Regions from separate parts of the Homo sapiens genome. Here region 1 is linked to region 2. Evidence: fine-mapped expression QTL. A gene starts in region 2. The other region holds a variant in brackets. All regions are shown on one strand. Distances are from middle to middle. Region 1 has its middle 48 kb from the start of PNMA2. Region 2 holds the start of BNIP3L (BCL2 interacting protein 3 like).

What was found. PIP is the estimated chance that this variant, and not a neighbour inherited with it, causes the effect. A credible set is the group of variants that fine-mapping cannot tell apart.
Region 1: its variant is the best candidate, but not a certain one, in a credible set for the expression of BNIP3L in cerebellum (GTEx, PIP 0.85).

The regions. Positions count from the first base shown.
Region 1 is chr8:26,463,685-26,468,070 of GRCh38, forward strand. No RefSeq gene overlaps it. Among named protein-coding and RNA genes, the nearest start is that of PNMA2, 48 kb to the right of the region's middle. RefSeq lists an enhancer at 3,919-3,968. The variant C/G (reference allele first, on the strand shown) is at 2,567.
Region 2 is chr8:26,380,662-26,385,047 of GRCh38, forward strand. BNIP3L (BCL2 interacting protein 3 like) reads left to right here and starts at 2,393. Exons shown (of 6, transcript NM_004331.3): 1 at 2,393-2,569. The coding sequence starts at 2,470. It also overlaps the pseudogene SDAD1P1. RefSeq lists enhancers at 870-2,069, 2,043-2,342 and a silencer at 2,553-3,142.

The DNA of each region.
Region 1 (4,386 bases), 83 kb after region 2:
ATTCCATTGGGTGGGTAAACCACATTTTGTTCATCTATTCATCTGTTGATGGACCTAGGGTTGCTTTTGCCTTTTGGCTATTGTGAATGAGGCTGCCATGGACATGGTGTATTGGAAACCTCCTTCATAGACATCAATTGTTGGTACTTAGTGAAGAACAAAGACTTTTGTTAAGTTTTAAATATTAGGAAAAGAGCCCAGGAGTTCAAGATTAGCCCTGGTAACATAGTGAGATCCTACCTCTACACAAAATAAAAAATTAGCCAGGCATGGTGGTGGCGCCTGTAGTCCCAGTTACTCGGGAGGCTAAGGCAGGAGAATGGCGTGAACCCAGGAGGCAGAGCTTGCAGTGAACTGAGATCGTGCCATTGCACTCCGGCCTGGGCGACAGAGCAAGACTCTGTCTCAAAAAAAAAAAAAAAAAAAATTAGCCAGTGATAGTAGCATGGGCCTGTAATTCCAGCTACTAGGGAGGCTGAGGTGGGAGGATTGCTTGAGCCCAGGAGTTGAGATTCCAGGGAGCTGTGATCATGCCATTGCACTCCAGCTGGGGTGACAGAGCAAGACTTTGTCTCACAAAAAAAAAAAAAAAAATCTGTCAAATGAGTGAATGACTAACTGGACCGTCCATGGGGTCCAAGACAAACTTCCTTAGCTCAGGAAAGGAAGAACGCCATGGAGGGTCCAGTTAGTTATTCATCCGTTTGACAAATTCTTTTTTTTTTTTTTTGAGACCTAGTCTTGCTCTGTCGCTCCAGCTGTAGTGCAGTGGCGTGATCTCAGCTCACTGGGTAAATGACTCGGGCACTTACCCAGGCTCTAATTCTAGCAGGACTCTTCCTGTTTTCTTATCGCTCAGCTGGTGGAAATGACACCAGCTTGAGCCAACCTCACCAGGTGTCATGAGCAGGAGCATCCAGGGGACCATGTAAATAAGTGCTGTCCCAATGGATGTCATGATTGTCCCTTACCGTGACCTCTCCTCGCAGCACCAGCCCTGCATCTACCAGTAACCTCCCACCTTTGGGCACCTCTCAGAACTCAGAACCTCTCTGTGAGCAGCCCTCCTTTCTGCCTTCCTCTTTCCTTTCTCCTTATTAAATCACTCTTTTCTCAGTCTTTTGTGCTGGAAACTCAAGTCATATCTAGCTTTTCTCTCTCCATGGCCTCCCCTTTCCTGCTCCAAGTCTGGCTGCTTCTTTCCTTTCATGGCCCTCATTTCCTGGGCCGTCACCTCTAGGCAGGAGTCCCTCCCTCCCGTGTGACCATTGTCAAGGCCTTGACCGTCTTCTGCCTCTGGAGTTTCCTGCCCCACCTCACCAATGTGGCCAGAGAGATCTCCCAAAGTGCAGCTCTGACCTCATGCCCCTAATTCAAAAATAACTGATGGGCTGGGCACGGTGGCTGACACCTGTAATCCCAGCAATTTGAGAGGCCAGGGCAGGTGGATCACCAGAGGTCAGGAGTTCGAGACCAGCCTGGCCAACATAGTGAAACCCCCATCTCTACTAAAAATACAAAAAATTAGCTTGGCATCGTGGTGCGTGCCTGTAATCCCAGCTACTTGGGAGGCTGAGACAGGAGAATTGCTTGAACCCAGGAGATGGAGGTTGCAGTGAGTCGAGATTGCGCCACTGCAGTCTAGCCTGGGTGACAGAGTGAGACTCCGTCTTTAATAAAAAGAAAAAAATGACTGATGGATGAACCAACTGCACATAACCTCCTCTCTGGCTTTCCAGGGCCTCCCACCCCCTGGTCCCTCTGACTATTAAGAGGGACCCTCTTGGCCCCTGCATTTCTTCCCTCCAGCCGCAGTCAGCCCCCTGCCTCTCCTGAGCGTGTGCTGAGCATCTGCCTCCCTGCCTGTGCACACTGTGCTCCTCTGGCTGGATCATCAATTCTCTCTCCTCCCTGCTCTGCTGAAATCCTTTCTATGCTTTAAAATGCAGCTCAAATGCCCCACTGTGCTATTTCTATGCTAAATCCACACTCCTCTCACTGTACACACCACGTCGGCTCAGAAGTGTTTGTTTGCATTCCTTCCTTGGCTTCCTCACTAGACTGAATTCCTGAGAGTGGAGAGGATGTGTCTTGTTTCCACTCCCAGCACTGTCCGGTCCAACCAGCGAGAAGTGATTGCTGGTTTTGGGAGACTCCTTGCTCTCCTTCCTTCTTCGCCCGGGTCTTGGGTGCTGACCTTATGAAAGGGCAGCCTGGGGTTTTTCTTGGCATCACCAGCACATAGCTGGGTTATGCACACAGCACGTTGCCCAGTTCCTGGCTTGGAGGGAGTGTGCTCATGTTTGATGGTTACAACAATGGATGGGAACCCATAGCCAGTGGCTTCGATGCCTCTGTCCTGATGGGAAGCTGAGAAGGAATTGACGGTACCCTTCTTTCTTTTGGGTCACTACCGTCCTGCAGCTTCAGCGTTTCTTTGTGCTGGAGCAAGTGCAGTTGCCAAGACCGCAGAGGAAGGGGGTGGAGGAATGGCCTCAGCCATCTCAGAGGACGGCACTTGTTGCCCCCAGTGCCACTGGCCAAAGACCTTTTCAATTACACCAGA[C/G]GCATTGGCTCTAGGCAGCCTCAGCTTCCTGTCACCACGGACTCTGTTTAATGTCTCAGCTGGACTTGGCTGCATCAGAGATTGCAGGGAATATGGCTGGTCCACTTGGGTGGATTTGCACATGGCCATCCTGTACATGTGCCCTTCTGCCAGCCTGGCAGCCTCTCCCTTCGTCTGCCTTTTCCTTGGAAGTGCATCAGCAGGGGGAGCTGGATCTATCCTCAACCTAATGGAAAGCAGACGTCCCCGCACGCAGAGGAGCAGGCTGCCTTGCAGGGTTTTTCTGGAATAGCTCAGATGGTTGTTATTTTATTCATTGGAATGGAGATGAATTGCTAAATGTACCAGTTAAATGTGATTTAAATTGTATATCTTTGTCAAGTTTTTCACATAAATTCACTCATTAAAAAAAAATTCTTTGCACAGACATTTGCCTTTATTTTTGTGTTCCATGAGCTGGGGAGACAAAATGTTCTAGCTGGGAAGACCATTTTCTGTTTCTAAACTACATGAAGGTTTGCCTTTAAGACATTAGACATAAGACACTAGAAGGCTAAAGTCAGCCTGTTTGTGGGCAGCCTTAAAGCATCCCCAGAGGTCCTTGTTAAAGAACTAGTAGGTCCTCATATAACCATTTATTTTATTTTATTTTTATAATTTATTTTTTAAAGGCAGGGTCTTTCTCTGTTGCCCAGGCTGGAGTGCAGTGGTGTGATTGTAGCTGACTGCAGCCTTGAGCTCCTGGGCCCAAGGTATCCTCCTGTCTTAGCCTCCATAGTACCTGGGACCACAGGTGTGTGCCACCATGTCTGGCTAACTCCCATATAACCATTTCTTCCCTTCCAATTTGCCAGCACTTTGACTATCCTTGTTTCATGATCCTCAGTTCCCATGTTGAACTGAAACTTTTGTATTCCTCACGTTGTTTTATTTTCTGTATTTGCTGATGATTTGGCATCTGCGGCCTTGCTGATCTTGGAGAGACCACCTTTCCCGGGGCCAGCTAATTCCTGGAGATGGTAACCACTTGCCTGCAAGTGTGCCTTCCATATTGGAAACCAGCCAATCCAAGGTCCACACCCCCACCTGTCTCTATGACAGAGGATGAAACTCCGGGCCTCTGCCCTAACTACCCTAGGGCCAGGTATGAGGAAACTAGGGGCAGCTCCTATGCTGCAGAGCCCACTGGCAGTCCTCAGCCTGCTCGCCCTGCCTTGCCTGGCCGTTACCATGGAAACCACAATAAAGGCTCTTGCTGGTGTTTCCAGCCTCTCTCCCTCCCCCTCCTGACCCACCCTGGTGCCTCCCCATGTGACCCTGCGTGGTGTGCCGTACTTCCTCTTTCTAGGGGTCTGTGAATATAAAAAACTTCTTCCCTCATGACAGCAATTTTCATGTTGCATGTTAAAACAAATCCTGGGTGTAATTTGCAACAACTTTTGACCTCTCTTCAGCTCAAATCTTGGTAATGACCACTCAAACTTACAACGGGACTTGGCTTCTTGTCCGTGGCCCTGACTCTTTAGCCAGAAAGTGAAGCTATCATCTTGTTAACAGAAAAAAGGTCCCGATCCAGACCCCAGGAGAGGGTTTTCAGATCTCACATAGGGAGGAATTCAAGGTGAATCACAGAATGCAGTGAAAGAAGCAAGTTTATTAGAAATTCTCCATTGCAGAGCAGGGTGACCTCAGAGAGCAAGCGGAGGAACGCACCATCTTTAAGTTTTTCTCATAGAGGGTCTTGTCTAAGTAGAGACTAAAGCTAAGCTGTGTTTAGGTGCAGATGGGCAGACAGCATGACAAAATGGATTCTTCTATTG
Region 2 (4,386 bases):
CTTTTTCTTGTTTTGGGAACTTTGTTCCCTGTAGCATACTGTGCTAGCAGGTCTCTTGCTGTTGGTCCGTCATCCTCAGATTCGGAGTCACTGGCCTGTTTTTCATCTTCATCTTTTCCAAGAAAGAATGTCAAAGCAGCAACTAATATCTTGGTGACCTAAGAGAAACATGCAGTTGTGATAACATTGACAGTTTTGGTATCATTCCAGATGTTCCTTCTGTAGAGTTCAATCATAACATCTAAAGACATCTTGGCTGCAGTTGCATTGCTATCTCTCAACATGGTATACATGAAATTTTACAATACTACATCCACTTTATTCTTGTGTTTTGCATTTATATTCTTGATATCAGTCACGATATATGTGTATGAAGTCTTTTGCAGAAGCTTATCATGGCAACAGAGAAGTTCAAAGAAGAGTTCTAGCAGGCTTGATGGATTGATGAGATTCTTATTTCTCAGCAAGATCAAAGCTTTGCAAAATGTCATTCGAAGATCTGGATCCAATACAGTATGATTACAGGACAGAAGATCTTTCACCACTTGAGGAAAATTACTTAGATACCCTGGGTAGCAGTAACTAATCTATAACAAAGCAAAGGCTCTTCTGAAGTTTCTCTCTTTCTCTCCTATTATTCAGATGCACATATTTAGGACGTTCTGTGCCATAAACACCACCAGCTCTGCTAGTTCTTTACCGGGTTTATATGGTTGCAATTTGAAAATCTCCACATTGGATGTGTAGTGATTATACTGCTGTAGAAACTCCTAGATGGAGGGTGGTGGGTCTCGCTTCATCAGATTCTGTAACTGCAGTCAGGTTGCTGGGCAGCTTGTTGTTGTTTCTGCTGGACATTCTGGCTGAAGACTGGCTTCGCGGCGAGCAGTTTTAATAAAACTCAGATGGCCAGCAGCCGCCAATCCCTACCAGCTGCGGCTTGAACTCCTGCTTCCGGGTATGACCGGAAACAGCACTCAATCTATTAATAGAGTTCATTTCTGACCAAAATCTTAAAAGAATTTGCAAAGGGATTTGACAAATCAATCCTTAAAAAAAACCTTTTAGCATGGACTTTTTCAAATATATTAAAAAATTAGAGGAATACTTTAATGTATTACATAGCTTCAATAATTACCAACACAAGGTCAATCTTGGACAAGTCCATTTTTAAGTTCATCTGAAGAGTAACTAGCCATTAACATCTGAAAAAGACAAAGGAAGAGAAACTTTAATAGTTATCTAACAGAGGTATTGCAGATAGCCCTGAAACAGACTCACATTTTTGTGGTCATTCAGAGAGTGACAAAGGTGCAATTTCAAATCAGTGTAGAAAGGATGGCTTAAAATTAATATTATTAGGTCAATGGGCTACAAAATTGGGAAGAATTGAAGTTAAATAATTTACAGCATATGGAAAATAAATTTCAGATGGATTAGAGCTCTAAATGTAAAGTTAAGCCTATAAGAAAATTAGAAAAAGTTATAAGGGAATTATAGATTAGTAATCTTGGTGTGACTGTCTCCCCAAGCCATGTAAGAATGATAAATCTGATTACATGAAAACCTTAAGCTTCTACAGAGTGAAAAAAACAAATTAAAAGACAAGTTAGAGACTGCGAGAAACATATGTCACTCATAAATCAGACCAAGGAGACTGGACGAAGACATGGAGATGTGAAGTAGGAGGTGTGCTCAGGAACATAGTTTAATGTCATCCACGTACAGGATAAACGGCTTCCCACGTCATGTCCCAGAAATCGATTAGTCGATGGGATTTGGGTGAGTACTTTCTTCTCTCTGTTTTCCTGAATTTTTCTTTTTTCTTTCTTCCCCTTTCTTCTTTCTCTTTTTTTCAGAATGATGGTGTGTTTGTAATCGACATTTTAAAAATTCTGTAACAATTAAATTTGGGGGCGGCCTTCCCTTGTTTCCCGTATGGAGTGTTGATGTTTCAGCAGCTTTATTTGGAGTTTACACGTGGAGGCACCTGGGTTTGGGGATTCCTTTGTGTCCCCAAGACACCTATTGCAGAAGTGAGTCCTAAGAGGTAGAAAACAGATGCGTGCGCAGGGCTGGGTGAAGCACTGTGGAGCCTGTGTGAGAGGAGGCACGGGCGCGAACACAGGAGCGCACTTCCTCATTCCGTTTCTCCTCATCCTCTCTCCCACTGCCACTGGCATCACTCATCCCATCCGGTCATCCCAAGTCACACGCAAGAGTTCGTTCCCGGCGCGCGCGTCAGCCTGACTCGAGCGTCTCCACGTCCGGGGCCCGCAGGGGAGCGCCCCTGCCCCGTCCGGTCGCTTGTTGTGTTGTCATCACGTGGCCTGGGCGGGCCCTGACGTCAGGGGCAGGGGAGGGACGGCGCAGGCGCAGAAAAGGGGGCGGCGGACTCGGCTTGTTGTGTTGCTGCCTGAGTGCCGGAGACGGTCCTGCTGCTGCCGCAGTCCTGCCAGCTGTCCGACAATGTCGTCCCACCTAGTCGAGCCGCCGCCGCCCCTGCACAACAACAACAACAACTGCGAGGAAAATGAGCAGTCTCTGCCCCCGCCGGCCGGCCTCAACAGTGAGTGCGGGGCCGAGGCTCTGTGAAGGGGATGGGGGAGGAGGAGCAGCCCCGGCCGCCGCCACCGGCGCGGCGCGGGAGGCGGGAGGAGAAGGCAGCTCATTGGCTCAGGCATGGGATGTCCAGGTGACTGACAGCTCCCGTCCCCTGTCAAGAGGAGGGGCGCCTGCCTTGCTCCGGGCCTCTCTGTTGCCTCCTGGGGTCTTGGGCCCGGGGCCGTTTGGGCTCGCGGTCCGGGAGCGGCGCGGGTAGCGCGGATCCCCCTGGTGCGGGGGGTGGTCCCCAGCAGCGGAGCCGGGCGGGGCGGGGCGGGGGCGGGCCTGGGGGGCGGGGAGGCCGGGTGGGCGGAGCGGGCCGCGGAGGGGACGTGGGCCGGGATGGGGACGTGCGGCGGGGACGCCGGGGGATGGACGCGCGGGAGCGGGGCGGGGCGGGCGGCTGCCGCGGGACGTGTCGGGGATCAGGTGTGCGGGGCTCGCGGGCGGGCAGCGTCTGGCGGGCGCGGGAGCCCCCCAGCGAGCATTCCTTTGTTGCCACACGTTTGTCAGGAAAATTCATTTGCTCGTCTAGGGTTGGCTTCAGTCACGTGTGGGGTGAGAGGCTGTGCCTTGCTTCTCCTTTTTCCTTTTTTATTTTTTTATTAGATTTCTCGAAGTTGCCCAAGTGATTTTTTTTTTTTTAAAGCGATGGGTTGTGCGCCCAGTAAAGCTGAGAGCAGCCTCCTGAACCACCCAAGATTGCACACGTCAGGGAGTCTGGGGCCATGCATTTAAAGAAACGGAATTAAAAACGCACTCGGGCAGTTGAAAGTTAACGGACGAGGCTGATAGACAACCCAGGCCAGGGTCTTTTCATAACATTCCGCTGCCCAGACATCTTGTCCTCAGATTGTTCCTAGTCGTGAGAACCGGGAGCCTTCTTGGAAGGGTTCTTGCCTAACCTTTCTTTAATTCAACTCTTGGGAAAGAGGTAATGGGAGCAGTGAGCATATGGCCAGATGAAGTCTTTTCAAAACCACTTGGATGCTTAAAGGTCATGCAGTATCTTTCGTAAGAGGGAGGTGCTTCCAGTGTGGCCTGAAGATTATTTTAGGGAAGAGAGTTTCAGCCCTCACCAGGTAGCGATGGAGTTTGGAGATTTTAAGATGGATGCTGCTGCTCCAGGTTTTGATGGGTTAATTCCCAAAACCTTTAAGTGTCATATATTCCAGAATGTAAGATGGTTATATTATTTCCCACAGTAAATTAGGATGAATGTATGAGTCTTTAAACGTTACTTGTATCACATATTCCTATGCAATTTTAAGTTATTTGCCCATGTTTAGCATACTGTCTTAGATTTTAGAATGGGAAGAAACTTCAGAGCTAGCTAACTGCCTCCTGTTGTTTGCCTGTAGAGAAACAGGTCTAGAGTAAATGGCCTTGTCCAAGTTCACAACCGGCTGGGAGCAAAGCAGAGGTTCTCATGTTCAGCCTGTCTACTGCTCTTTTGAGGACATTTTTTTTTTTTTTTTTTTTTTTTTGAGGTAGAGTCTCGCTCTGTCTACAACCTCCGCCTCCCAGGTTCAAGCGATTCTTCTGCCTCAGCCTCCCGAGTAGCTGGGACTACAGGTGCCTGCCACCCGCCCAGCTAATTTTTGTATTTTTAGTAGAGACGAAGTTTCGCCATGTAGCTGGGATTACAGGCGCCCGACACCAAGCTAGGCTAATTTTTGTATTTTCAGTAGAGAGGGGGTTGTTGGTCTCTCACCATGTTGGCCAGGCTGGTCTCAAACTCCTGACCTCACGTCATCCGCCCGCCTGGGCCTCCCAAAGTGC